2 linked regions of the Homo sapiens genome follow. The protein of the gene in region 1 interacts with the protein of each later gene in a pairwise test. Each region holds a gene or a part of one and is shown in the gene's direction. Other genes may lie near its edges.

Region 1 (3,530 bases):
CCCCTTTGCTGGTCTCTCACTGTCTCTCCTGCTGCCCTATAAAGAGGTTCCTTCCATCATGATTGTAAGTTTCCCGAGGCCACCCCCAGCCATGTGGAAATGTGAGTCAATTACACCTCTTTATAAATCACCCAGTATCAGGTATGTCCTTAGAGCATCGTGAGAATGGACTAATACACCTCCCATTGGGGTTAGGACTTCATCATATGAATTTTGGGGAGACAGAAAGATGCAGTTCAGGCTGGGTACAGTGGCTCAGCCTGTAATCCCAGTACTTTGGGAGGCCAAGGCGGGTGGATCACTTGAGGTCAGGAGTTTAAGACCAGTCTGGCCAACATGGCAAAACCTTGTCTCTACTAAAAATACAAAAATCAGTCAGGCATGGTGGCGCATGCCTGTAAACCCAGCTACTCGGGAGGTTGAGGAGGACAGTTTGAACCTGGGAGGCAGAGGTTGCACTGAACTCCAGCCTGGGCAACAGAGCGAGACTGTCTCAGAAATTATAATAATAGGCTGGGCGTGGTGGCTCACGCCTGTAATCCCAGCACTTTGAGAGGCCATGGCGGGTGGATCACGTGGTCAGGAGTTCGAGACCAGCCTGGCCAGCATGGTGAAACCCCATCTCTACTGAAGATACAAAAAACTAGCCGGGCATAGTGGTGGGCACCTGTAATCCCAGCTACTAGGGAGGCTGAGGCAGGAGAATTGCTTGAACCCTGGAGCCGGAAGTTGCAGTGAGCTGAGATTGCACCATTGCACTCCAGCCTGGGCGACAGAGCTAGACTTCGTCTCAAAAAAAAATAATAATAAAATAAAATATAATAATAATAATAAAAACAAAGAAACATTCTGTTCATAACCAGGGAGGACCCTGAGGCAGTGGTGAGGAATGCGGGCTTTATCCCAAAGGTGATGGGGAACCTCTTGCGGGTCCAGAGCAGGGAGGAGCAGGTGCTGTGGTCCTCAGTTCTGTAATCACCTCCTCTTGCCTTCCTGCCAGTGAGATTGCCACACTCCAGGAGCAGCTGATGACCTCAGAAGCCACTGTCCACAGCCTGCAGGCCACCGTGCACCAGAGGGACGAGCTCATTAGGCAGTTGCAGCCCCGGGCTGAGCTGCTGCAGGACATCTGCCGCCGCCGGCCACCCCTGGCTGGGCTGCTGGATGCCCTGGCTGAGGCTGAGCGCCTGGGGCCCCTGCCGGCCAGTGACCCCGGCCACCCACCCCCCGGTGGGCCTGGTCCACCCCTTGACAACAGCACTGGGGAAGAGGCGGACAGGGACCACCTCCAGCCTGCAGTGTTTGGGACCACAGTGTGAGCCCGGAATGCAGATTACAGAATGGAGACAGAAAGCCACTGCTGTCAGTGTCCTTGGGAGTCACCAGCACCCTGCAGGGGGACCCTACGGCAGAGCCAAAGTCCTGTCTAAGCATCAGAACAGGCTGAACAGTCAAAAAGTTTTCAAATAGGCCCACAGGCCAGGTGCAGACGTTTAACCCAGACAGAAGTGTTCTTGTTTGTTTTTAAGCTTTGAATCAGTCACCCTTGCTAAAAACCTGGCAATGCAAACACAAAGATCTGGATTTCTGGCAAGACTTGGCCAAGCTTGCCTGGAGTTCAGGGCACCCTCTTTAGCCAGGGTGTGAGTTTCTGTTTTTTGTTTTTTTTTTTTTAAGACAGAGTCCCACTCTGTCGCCCTGGCTGGGGTGCAGTGGTGCGATTTTGGCTAACTGCAACCTCCGCCTCCCAGGTTCAAGCGATTCTCCTGTCTCATCCTTCAGAGTAGCTGGGATTACAGGCGCCCACCACCACACCCGGATATTTTATATTTTTGGTAGAGACCGGGGAGGGGAGGGGGTTTCACCATGTTGACCAGGCTGGTCTCAAACTCCTGACCTTAGGTGATCCACCCGCCTCGGCCTTCGAAAGTGCTGCAGTTATAGGTGTAAGCCACCGCGCCCGGCCCTAGCCTAGCTTTTGTAGCATGCAACTGTCTCCTTTTTATACGCCCTAAAGAATATATTTTTGAACTCCTTGTTTCTGCGCTGTCCTTCTTAGCCCAGGACATTCAGGGTGCTTTGCTTGTTGTCAAACCAGGGAAAGGAGAAAACTCCTGTGCCTTTCTGGGCCAGCCTGTCACCCTGGCCTGGTCGGCAGCCATTCCCCTACCTCCTCACTCAGGAACTGTCACACCAGGAACCGGCGAGGGGCACAGCCTGTTTCAGACCAGAAAGGTCGGAGGCCACCCACGGCCTTCAGGATGGCGCCCGCCTGCCTGCCTGGCAACAGTGACCCCTCAGTGCAGTAACAATGGGCCCATTTTCTCCTCTGGATGAACAAGGAGGGGGGTTGTTTGTACAAAGGAAAGGCAGGCTGGGGCCTGTCTGTGCTCAAGAATAAACCGGATGATTTCCTGGCCTGGGGGCAAGAGGGAGGCCCTCTGTGTTATTTGTGCCTCCTGGTAGGGTCCTGCTGGGCCAGGTAGAATCTAGGGAGTGTAGGCCAAGCACTCTCTACAGCGATTGCATCTAATCTTCGAGTTTCCCTGTAGACACAGGCTTTGTCCTCATTTTACAGCTGTGGAAAGTGAGGCCCAGGCCGGGCGCGGTGTCTCACGCCTGTAATCCCAGCACTTTGGGATGCGGGTGGATCACCTGAGGTCAGGAGTTCGAGACCACCCTGGCCAACATGGTGAAACCCCGTCTCTACTAAAAATACTAAAATTAGCCGGGCTTGGTGGCGGGTGCCTGTAATCCCAGCTACTGAACCCGGGAGGCGGAGGTTGCAGTGAGTGGAGATTGCACCACTGCACTCCAGCCTGGGAGACAGAGTGAGACTCAGTCTCAAAGAAAACAACAACAACAACAACAACAACAACAACAACAACAAACAGAGGCCCAGAGGTGTGAAGGGAACACACTCCGGGTCTGGAGGGCCAGGGCCACTTCCAATTCTGGGGGAAGTTATTGCTGAAATTCTGTTTTCTTTCTTTCTTTCTTTTTTTTTTAAAGAGACAAAGTCTCACTGTTGCCCAGGCTGGAGTGCAATGGTGTGATCACAACTCACTGCAGCCTCAAAATCCTGGTCTTGGCTGGGCCAGTGGCTCACACCTATAATCTCAGCACTTTGGGAGGCCAAGGCAGGTGGATCACCTGAGGCCAGGAGTTCAAGACCAGCCTGACCAACATGGTGAAACTCCGTCTCTACTAAAAACACAAAAATTAACCGGGTGTGGTGGCGCGTGCCTGTAATCCCAGATACTCGGGAGGTTGAGGCAGGAGAATCACTTGAACCCGGGAGATGGAGGCTGTAGTGAGCCGAGATTGTACCACTGCACTCCAGCTTGGGCGACAGAGGGAGACTCCGTCTCAAAAAAAAATCCTGGGATCAAGCTATCATGCTACCTCAGCCTGCCAAGTAGCTGGGACCATGGGCATATGCCACCATGCCTGGCTGCGTTTTTGCATTTTTTCTAGAGATAAGGTCTCATTACATTGCCCAGGCTGGTCTTGAACTCCTGGCCTCAAGT
Region 2 (3,441 bases), on another chromosome or scaffold:
TGGGAGGCCGAGGTGGGCAGATCACCTGAGGTCAGGAGTTTGAGACCAGCCTGGCCAACATGGTGAAACCCCATCTCTACTAAAAATGCAAAAATTAGCCAGGCGTGATGGCGCATGCCTGTAGTCCCAGGTACTTAGGAGGCTGAGGCAGGAGAATCACTTGAGCCCAGGAGGTGGAGATTGCAGTGAGCCGAGATCACACCACTGCACTCTACCTCAAAAAAAAAAAAAGAATTTCCCCCCACCAAAAGAATGCAGGAGATGCTGTGCAGCAAAATCTGTAGCTAATGTCTTCGGTTGGAGTTATAAGTCACCAGGGATCAGCAGTGGAGGTAGTTCAGGCTGCTGGGGGTTCAGGATTGTCTTCATATGAAAGGAATACTTAGGGTAACATTTCCATAATGTGAAAAGAACATATTAAAACACTAGTTGATTACAGCTTTCTGTATGTGTGTGTGTGTTTTACCTTTCCTATGGTGCTGAAGCTTTGTGTTTTTTAAAGGTGTTTGATCAGAGTGCGCTTTCAACTGAAGCTAAAGAAGAAATGTACAAGCTGTATCCTAATGCCCGAAGAGCTCATCTGAAAACAGGAGGCAATTTCCCATACCTGTGCAGAAGTGCAGAGGTCAATCTTTATGTACAGGTAAGGCCTAGCTTGAAACCCAGAGCACTCTGAGCCCAACATATGTTTGCAACATAAAGACTTCTTTTAATGGACTAGTTAGGGAATCAGTGAACTACAGAATTCCTTGTAGAAATGAGGCATTGACTTGATAAAAGTGGTTTACATTTATAACTTGTAGGAGAATTTGAACAGGTATATTAGAGATCCCCCAGTGACTCTCTGGCCACCATCCCTTTTCTAAGGACAGCAGGCCTGCATTCACACACTGAGGTTACTATTGGTATGATGTGACCTTGCCCTCTGGACACAGTGAATTCCATCAGAGCAAGACACCAGACCTAAATGGGGTCAATCTGAGTCCTGTGAAGTGACTTCTTGATCTAATTTTAATGCATTAAAAGAAAACCCTACCAGGCGTAGTGGCTCATGCCTGTAATCTCAGCACTTTGCGAGGCTGAGGCAGGCAGATCACAAGGTCAGGAGGTCAAGACCAGCCTGGCCAATATGGTGAAACCGTCTCTACTAAAAATACAAAAAAAATTAGCTGGACGTGGTGGTGCACACCTGTAGTCCCAGCTACTCGGGAGGCTGAGGCAGAAGAATCACTTGAATCCTGGAGGCAGAGGTTGCAGTGAGCCGAGGTCACGCCATTGCACTCCAGCCTGGGCAACAGAACAAGACTCCGTCTCAAAAAAAAAGAAAAGAAAAGAAAGCCCTAACAAACACCATCCCTTCATACTCTAACTAAATGGATAATAGAATAGCAGTGAGGGGTGAGTGCCCTGGCAGTTTGGCAAGATGAATCAAGAGCCTTAAAAAACCAGTTATATCCTGGCCACGCATGGTGGCTCACACCTGTAATCCCAAAAACCAGTCATATCCCTTGATCCTGTCATCCCCTTATAGAAGACAGGATCCTAAACAGGAATACTTGATGCCCAGAGATATTCATCATAGCAGCACTAGTCACAGTAGCAGAAGATTGGAAGGACCTAACTCACAGCAGCAGAAGGGAAGGGTAAACATCTCATGAGCATGCACCATCTAAGATGTCTCAGGAGACTCTGCAGGGACTCAGGGAGACTGCTCAGGGAGTGAGGAACAAAGATCCCAAATGTGGTTTCAAAAAATTGTTTGACTTTTCTCTATTTAGTATGTCTTAGTCTGTAAATTTTAGAAGTATAAAACATTTGTCCACTATGGTGATGTTTTCCTACCAAACTTTTTATAGAAGGCAGTATACATTTTACTCTGTAATGCAGCCATTTAAAACAATGATTCTGGCAGGGTGCAGTGGCTCACACCTGTAATCTGGCACTTTGGGAGGCCGAGGCAGATGGATCACTTGAGGCCAGGAGTTCAAAACCAGCCTGGCCAACATGGTGAAACCCTGTCTCTACTAAAAATACAAAAATTAGCTGGGCATGGTGGCGGGCACCTGTAATCCCAGCTACTCGGGAGGCTGAGGCAGGAGAATTGGGTGAACCCGGGAGGCGGAGGTTGGAGTGAACCAAGATAGTGCCACTGCACTCCAGCCTGGGCAACAAGAGTGACACTCCAGCTCAAAAAATAAATAAAATAATGATTCTGCATTTCAACAGATACATTTGCTGCAATTCCATGGAACCAAATACGCGGCCATTGACCCATCAATGGTCAGTGCCGAGGAGCTTGAGGTGCAGAAAGGCAGCCTTGGCATCAGCCAGGAGGAGCAGTAGTGTGTCTCTCGCTGTCAATGATGAGTTGACCCGGTGTGTTCTTGTATAGTCAGTGGCATCAGCACCCGTCAGCCAGCCTTTTCCTTCAGGTTCGTCAGGCTCACCGGTTCTCACTGTGTCTGGGAAGTAGGACTGATGGTCATCTTCATGACAGGCGGCATCTCCACTAAGCCTGTGTAACTGTTCCCTCTTTGGTTTTCTTAGCTTTTGAATTTGAAGAAGTACTTTTGAAGACTCCCATTTTAAGAACCGTGCAAATTTTGCTACCAAAAGTCTTCACCACTGTGTTCTTAAGTGAATGTTAATTTCTGAGGTTTGGGACTTTGTGGTGGTTTTTTTCTTCTTTTCTTTTCCATTCTTCTTTCTTTCTTTTTATGTTGTTTGCTGTAAATGCTGCACATCCAGATTGCATATCAGGACATTGGTTATTTTATGCTTTCTTGGATATAACCATGATCAGAGTGCCATGGCCACTACCCCACTGTTTGCTCTCCTGCAAATCAACTGCTTTTAATTTACACTTAAACAAATTGTTTTGAGTGTTAGCTACTGCCTTTCTAGATATTAGTCATTTGGAATAAAAATTCAATTTAACTGAGTCGCTTTTGTGATTATTGTTGCTGCCCAACTGGGCTACACAGGCCTAGGACTTTCTGAGAAGTAGGTCATGGTTGCCAATTCTGTGTGACTTTGGGTAAGTTACTTAATCTCCCTGAAGTACAGTTTGCACATCATAAAATAACCCTAAGCTATCATTTATTGATCTGCTACTGTGTGCCAGGTACTTTTCTCGTCTTCTTTCCCCTGAGTGAAAATGCTTAAACCCACATGAAGTAGAGAAAATGGCATAATGAATGATGTTCCCATCATCCAGCTTCAAAAATTATCAACTCTCAGACAGTCTTGTTCATCTTTTCTTTTTTTTTTTTTTGAGACAGAGTTTCGCTCTTGTTGCCCAGGCTGGAGTGCAATGACGTGATCTCGGCTCACCGCAACCTCCGCCTCCCGGGTTCAAGCAATTCTTCTGCCTCAGCCTCCCAAGTAGCTGAGATTACAGGTATGCACCACCACGCCCGGCTAATTTTGTATTTTTAGTAG

Evidence for each region. Proteins that work in one complex are often made in the same cells at the same time.
Region 2: the proteins of VMAC (region 1) and SPG21 interact in binary tests that used the Homo sapiens proteins (3 or more experiments, as listed by UniProt).

Annotation. Positions count from the first base shown.
Region 1 is NC_000019.10:5,907,824-5,911,353, forward strand, and holds the end of VMAC (vimentin-type intermediate filament-associated coiled-coil protein), read left to right. Parts: intron 1-1,000; coding exon 1,001-1,319; 3' UTR 1,320-3,030; downstream 3,031-3,530.
Region 2 is NC_000015.10:64,962,522-64,965,962, reverse strand, and holds the end of SPG21 (maspardin), read left to right. Parts: intron 1-502; coding exon 503-643; intron 644-2,226; coding exon 2,227-2,343; 3' UTR 2,344-2,941; downstream 2,942-3,441. UniProt on the Homo sapiens protein: May play a role as a negative regulatory factor in CD4-dependent T-cell activation.